Homo sapiens: one gene and its partner. The protein of the gene in region 1 interacts with the protein of each later gene in a pairwise test. Each region holds a gene or a part of one and is shown in the gene's direction. Other genes may lie near its edges. The genes, in order: ZNF234 and CLIC6.

Region 1 (3,826 bases):
TGCACCCTGCCAAGAGGCAGCTTTTAAATGACTATTCCTGCAGGAGGGGAGTAAGTTTTTCCTCTGTAAAAATTTCCTTAGAGGTACGTCTTTCTGCTAAACTTTTGTGGAAGAGTTCATTTAAAAAATAATTTCCAAATATTTATATCTCTTTATACAAGATTAAACATTTTGGAATATTATTAAGGATAAACCTTTCAGAAGGGTTTAAACATTTTAAATCTAAGTTATATTAGAAGTGGTCAAGAGTTTATAATAGTTGTCAGCTCATTTAATGTCTGTCAACACAGAAAAATAAGATTAAGTGTATATGTTATGCAGAATATTCAAGAATATGGTTGATCCTTGAACAACTTGGGGGTTAGGGACACCAACTCCCCTCACAGTAAAAAATCCAAGTATAACTTTTGACTCCCCTCTAAAACTTTACTCATGGCCTACTTTGACTGAAAGACCTACTGATAACATAGTCAATTAACACATATTTTGTATGTTATAATGTATTGTATACTATATTCTTACAATAAAGGAAGAATTCTTTATTCTTACAATAAAGAGAAGAGAAAATGTTATTAAGAAAATTATAAGGAGGAAGAGGAGGGGTTGGTCTTGCTGTCTCAGGGATGGCAGAGATGGAAGAAAATCCATGTATAAGTGAACACATGCAGGTCAAACCTGTGTTGTTCAACGGTCAACTGTATTTTGAACATGTAAATATAAACATTTCAGGTTATTTAATAATTTGAATATGTAACATGAACCTAAACTGCAAAATATTTGATTATTTTCTTACTTTCCCTTGAAGTTCTTGTTGATTTATATTATCTACATTTTTTTTTAACTTTTAATATTTTTAATAGAGGTACATTCTTGCTTTGTTGCCCAGACTGGTCTCAAACCCCTGGCCTCAAACTATCCTTCTGCCCCAGCCTCCCAGAATGCTGGGATATACAGGCATGACCATGCCTGGCCTATGCTTTTTATATTTAGATAATTTACTATTTATTATTCTACACTGACTTTAAAATTCGATGGAAATGGCAGTACAATTTGTATCATGTTAATTTTTAAAATTAACTCTGACTTCTAACTTGTGTCTCACATAGGAGACTTGGTATGGTCTAATGCCTGGTAGATAGCAGCCAATTGGACCACCTCTTGATTTATCTAGGCATGGAAATCAGAGATCATGATACACAGTGGAAAAGACCATTACACAAACTGGACCTTCTCTGGATTTGTTAAAATCGCATGCTCTCGCCTAAGTATGACATCTTGAAAACTTTTAACAGAGCCTCCACATCTCTGAATTCTCTGTCCTTACAGCAGACAAGATCCAAAGTGAGGTGGAGACTGTTCCAGAAGCAGGACGACATGAAGAGCTTTACTGGGGGCAAATCTGGAAACAGATTGCAAGTGATTTAATCAAGTATGAAGACTCTATGATAAGTATTTCTCGGTTCCCCAGACAAGGTGATTTGTCCTGCCAGGTTAGGGCAGGACTATATACAACTCACACAGGACAGAAATTTTACCAATGTGATGAGTACAAAAAATCCTTCACTGATGTCTTCAACTTTGATCTTCATCAACAGTTACACTCAGGAGAGAAGTCTCATACATGTGATGAGTGTGGAAAAAGCTTCTGTTACATCTCAGCCCTTCATATTCATCAAAGAGTCCACATGGGAGAGAAATGCTATAAGTGTGACGTGTGTGGTAAGGAATTTAGTCAGAGCTCACATCTTCAAACTCATCAGAGAGTCCACACTGTAGAGAAACCATTCAAATGTGTGGAATGTGGGAAAGGCTTCAGTCGTAGATCAACACTTACTGTACATTGCAAATTACACTCAGGAGAGAAACCTTACAATTGTGAGGAATGTGGAAGGGCCTTCATACATGCTTCCCATCTTCAGGAACATCAGAGAATTCATACTGGGGAGAAACCATTCAAATGTGATACATGTGGTAAGAACTTCCGTCGTAGATCAGCACTTAATAATCATTGCATGGTCCACACAGGAGAGAAACCATACAAATGTGAGGACTGTGGTAAGTGTTTCACTTGTAGCTCAAACCTTCGTATCCATCAAAGGGTCCACACAGGAGAGAAACCTTACAAGTGTGAAGAATGTGGTAAGTGCTTTATTCAGCCTTCACAATTTCAGGCCCATCGGAGAATCCACACTGGAGAGAAACCATACGTATGTAAAGTGTGTGGTAAGGGTTTCATTTACAGTTCAAGTTTTCAGGCCCATCAGGGAGTCCACACTGGAGAGAAGCCATACAAATGCAATGAGTGTGGGAAGAGCTTCAGAATGAAAATTCATTATCAAGTGCATCTGGTAGTCCACACAGGGGAAAAACCCTATAAATGTGAAGTATGTGGTAAAGCCTTCCGTCAGAGTTCATATCTTAAAATCCATCTGAAAGCACATAGTGTACAGAAACCTTTTAAGTGTGAAGAGTGTGGGCAGGGCTTCAATCAGAGCTCACGACTTCAGATTCACCAGCTGATCCATACCGGTGAGAAACCATACAAATGTGAAGAGTGCGGAAAGGGATTTAGTCGTAGAGCAGATCTTAAAATTCATTGTAGGATCCACACAGGGGAGAAACCATATAATTGTGAGGAGTGTGGGAAGGTCTTCAGTCAGGCCTCGCATCTTCTAACCCATCAGAGAGTTCACAGTGGGGAAAAACCATTTAAATGTGAAGAGTGTGGGAAGAGCTTCAGTCGGAGTGCACACCTTCAAGCCCATCAAAAAGTCCACACTGGAGAAAAGCCATACAAATGTGGGGAGTGTGGAAAGGGCTTCAAGTGGAGCTTGAACCTTGACATGCATCAGAGGGTGCACACAGGAGAAAAACCCTATACATGTGGGGAGTGTGGGAAGCACTTCAGTCAGGCCTCAAGTCTCCAACTTCATCAGAGTGTCCACACAGGAGAGAAACCATACAAATGTGATGTATGTGGTAAAGTCTTCAGTCGGTCTTCACAATTACAGTATCATAGGCGAGTTCACACTGGGGAAAAACCTTACAAATGTGAGATATGTGGTAAGAGGTTCAGCTGGCGATCAAATCTTGTAAGTCATCACAAAATTCATGCTGCTGGTACATTTTATGAAAATGATGAGAATAGTAAGAACATCAGAGAGTTGTCAGAGGGAGGAAGTTCTACAAGGTGATTAAAAAAAAAAAAACAGAACTCATGTACAACCTGAATGCTTGTAATTAGATTTCATAGGAGGGAAAAATTTTCTTTATCAACCTCTTTGAATTTATTTGATTTGTAACGCTCCACATTTCCACCTAGACTTTTTTTTGTTTTTTATTTTTTGTTTTGAAACAGAATCTCGCTCTGTTGCCCATGCTGGATGCAGTGGTGCTATCTCAGCTCACTGTAACCTCCACTTCCCGGGTTCAAGTGATTCTCCTGCCTCAGTGGATTACAGGTGCACACCACCACGCCTGGCTAATTTTTGTATTTTTAGTAGAGATGGAGTTTCACCATACTGGCCAGGCTGGTCTCAAACTCCTGACCTCATGTGATCCACCCACCTCGGCCTCCCAAAGTGCTGGGATTACAGGCATGAGCCACCGCCCCTGGCCTCCATCTAGACTTTGAAATGATTGCCTTCTAATTACAGTAGCATTCTCTTATTTAAAATATTTGTTTTATTTAAGTCAGTGTTTAAGCAATAGCTCAGCATATCCCAGTGGTCCAGTGACCACACAGCTGAGAACCCTTGTTAAGTGGTACAGTAAAGCATTCTGTCAAAACTTTGACATTTATGACATGTTACCTAGGAAATAGGAC
Region 2 (3,826 bases), on another chromosome or scaffold:
TTCAAGACCCTGGGACATAACCTCAGGACACCAGCCCCTGAGAGGCTGCTGGGAAGAGCTGGAGCGCAGTGCTGCTGTGTGACCCCAAATCTGCTCCTCTCCATCACCTTGGTTTTAGAAATTTCCCGTTGCTGTGGTTGTAAGGATACATGATTCTGGCACACGGCCTCTTAGCACAGTTTTGATGGACAGTAGCAGCTTCTGGCTAGTCTCCCTGTTTCAGTTCTCTGTCCTCTCCAATCTAGTCTCTTTGTAATAGCCAGTGAGCTGCGGACAAGATCTGATCATTTTATTTCTTTGTGTAAAATTCTTCAGTTGTTTATTGCAGAATTTCAGGTAAATCCCCACTCCTTAGGCAGCCCACAAGGCCCTTTGTGATGTTATTTCTGCCTTCTTTCTTTCTGGCCTTGGCATTGCTGGGTGTCCCCACCCTTTGTTACCTGTGGTCTCGCTATGCCACCTGGATTAAACTACTTACTGTTCCTTGAGGGAGCCACGTTCTTTCCTGCCTTGAAACTTTCTACATTATGTACCCTCTGTCTGAATGGAGTTTCTCCTCCTCGCCCCTGTCTGCCCTCCTGCCTAGTTATCTGCCACAAGTCCAAGAGTTAGCATGGATGTCATATCTTCCAGTCCCAGTCGGATGACCCTGTTAAGGCATTGCCCTCAGCCTGCTATGTCTCTTTCCTCAGCTGTGTGAAATTCATCATTCTATCTCCAGCGCAGAACACAGGTGTGGGATGTGGTGAAGGCTTGAATGGGCGGCTAGCTGCTGGATAGTGTGGTGATCAAGAACACGGACTTTAGAGCCAGTGGGTCTGGGATCAAATCTTGGCTTTGCTAATTTCTTGCCGTGTGACCTTGGGCAAGTTACTTAATCTTTTGGTATCATTGTGGTCTCATTGATAAAATGGGGACGGTAATAGTACCTAGCCCTTGAGGTTACCGTGAGAAATTGAGAATTAGATTACACAAAGCACTTAGAAAAGTGCCTGGCTGGAAATAAGCTTAGTACACATGTGAGTTCCTATTGTTACATCTGTGCTGCTCGCATAACTTGCACTGATTTTGCACAGAAACAGTTATCCCTGCCATTACTTATTTTATTTATTTTTAGGGAAAATCCCTCTAGGTACGTAATTACCTCCAATCTCTAGGGATAAGAATGTTGTGAAAAGTAAAAACAACTTGCTTCCTCAAATACTGCTTGGGAGGAGTTTGTGTGGGCAGAAGCATGTGGCCTAGCACCAGCAGCGGCCCAGCACGAGCAGCTTACCCACAATGCTTTATTCTGATGATTGATCTGGTGCTCAGTTGCTAACTTTTTTTTTTCTTAAGGAAACAGATAGATCTCCAAATGATGAGATTGGTTAACTTTTTTATTTTTTTTTTAATTGAGACAGGTTCTTGCTCTGTCACCCAGACAGGAGTGCAGTGGTGCTATCTCAGCTCACTGCAACCTCCACAGACTGGGTTCAAGTGATTCTTGTGTCTCAGCCTCCTGAGTCGCTGAGACTACAGGCATGCGCCACCACGTCTGGCTAATTGTTTTGTGTTTTTGGTAGAATGGGGTTTCGCCATGTTGGCCAGCCTGGTCTCAAACTCCTGACCTCAGGTGATCCACCCACCGTGGCCTCCCAAAGTGCTGGGATTACAGGCTTGAGCCACCACACCTGGCTGAGATTTGTTAACTTCTGAGGGGTCACTTATCATGAGCCTCACAGTATTGATATTGTGTCTCAGTTTCTTCTTATCCTACCAATTATGCTCTTTGAAAACAAAATGAAACAAAAACAAAAAAGACAGACATCAAAGCAAAAAACAAAACTAAACAAACAAACAAAAAAACACCCTTTAGACTCATATTTTCTGAGTTTGAAATACTTGATGTAAAATCTGGAAATTAGTTCAGAATAGGATTTCTTTGCCAGAATTAGCCTTTTCTAGGCTCCTTTTTTGGGCTCAGTTTTGTCTGGGTTCTATTCTACAGTGGACACCTGAGCTGGGTTTTGTGAACATGCCTAGATGCGTCTTCATGGTGGGTTTTGTATGGCATAGCTGGAGTGTGGAATTCACAGCTGGGTTTAAAGGAAAGTACTGCAATATTCTCTCAAACATTCTCCTAGCCTTCATATGACAGCTGAGCAAACACATTTTAAAATCAGTTAGCCCATATTTTATTTGGGAACTCCTAGCTTTCACATTTCTTCCAATTTTTTTTTTGAGACAGGGTCTCACTATGTTGCCCAGGCTGATCTCCAGCTCCTAGGCTCAAGCAGTCTCCCTGTGTCAGCCTGCTGAGTAGCTGGGACCACAGGCACACACCATTACACCCAGCTAGTTTTTTCAAAAAAATTTTTGTAGAGACAGAGGTCTCACTTTTTTGCTCCAGAGGGTCTCGAACTCCTGGGCTCAAGTGACCCTCCCACTCTGGCGTTTCAAAGTGCTGGGATTATAGGCACAAGCCACCATGCCTGGCCTCTCTTCCTATTTTGTTAAAAATAAATATATTGGTTACAAATATACCAGAAAGTCATGGCTAACTATGTAGTAACATGTAATAATAATTGTCCCACATTTGCTTCTAATTAGCCATCTAATATATTCTCCATCTTTATGAGAATTGTCATGTTATTAATTTGTCAGTTTGTTTTATTTTACAAGCATGCAAGGATGCATTCTTGTACAGAAGCCAGGAACATATAGAACCAGCCAAGAAAGGTCTTAAATTATTTTGTGGTAAATTAATTGCTGATTATGCTAATTTTTAGTTTTGTTTTCTCAAAGAAGTGTTAATTATTTGTCATCAAATTATAGGGTAACTCTGCAATATATTTAGTAAGAAAGGTTCTTTTTCTTTCCTCATAATAACAAAGGGTAACAACATAATCACATAATCACACAACAACATAATAACAACAGGCAAAACACTAGCAGCAGAGAGTTAAGTAAGAACTTCATTTAAGTAAGGAGTTCAGCGGTAGTGGAGATTTAGTCGCCAAGGAAGTCTTGCTTACGGCTTTGGTTCCCCTAATCTGGCGTGTAAGCTTTGAGTCAGGGTCTTTGGGTGGGACAGTCTGAGCTACGGCTTTCCTGGCAAATTTGACATGACTTAAAAAACTTCAGTGTTGACCAGTGATTAGTCCTGGGCCACCCAGGATTTAGACACCACCTGTTTACTTGTAAACATGCAGTTATTGCTGAGCTAAAAAAACTTGCATTTGTATTCACATTTGGGTTCTCCAAAGAGGTGAAACTGACCCGATGAAACACAGTAAAACTCAAGAAGGACATGGCCTTTGAATAAGCACTGTCACCCAGAAATGAGCCCCCGCCCCTCCAAAAAAAAAAAAAAAAAAGAGCCTTCCAAGCATTGCCATACCACAGGGCTGGGCAAGAATGAGCCAGGACCAGCGTCTGATGGACTCCTGGTAGAACGGTAAGCTGTGGCTCTCTGTGGACATGTCACTGGGAGAGAGCATGTTGGGACTTGTTCTATGGGGCTTGGTCTCCAGGGAGCTTGAAAGGGAGATGTTATTTTCACAACTATGTGTTCTGAAGGAAAGTGAGCAAAGATGCATTTCTGAGACTTTAATTCTCCCCTAAAAACAAATTTTTTGTAATTTTTTTTTATTGTCTTAGAAAACCTGCCTACAAATTACACATATGAAATCAGTACCGGGTTACTTGGGGGTGGAAACAGGTGGAGCATGATGTTTTGCGTAACCTCTTGCATACAAACAGGTGCAGGTGTGCACATGCATGCTGGGGGTGGGGATACCCCTGCCACACTCAGTGAGAGCCCTATCGTCATTGCCTCTCGGTT

What was found.
Region 2: the proteins of ZNF234 (region 1) and CLIC6 interact in a two-hybrid assay, tested with the Homo sapiens proteins (one large-scale study listed by BioGRID and IntAct).

The regions. Positions count from the first base shown.
Region 1 is NC_000019.10:44,154,926-44,158,751, forward strand, and holds part of ZNF234 (zinc finger protein 234), read left to right. Parts: intron 1-1,326; coding exon 1,327-3,194; 3' UTR 3,195-3,826.
Region 2 is NC_000021.9:34,671,912-34,675,737, forward strand, and holds part of CLIC6 (chloride intracellular channel protein 6), read left to right. Parts: intron 1-3,826. UniProt on the Homo sapiens protein: In the soluble state, catalyzes glutaredoxin-like thiol disulfide exchange reactions with reduced glutathione as electron donor. Can insert into membranes and form voltage-dependent chloride-selective channels.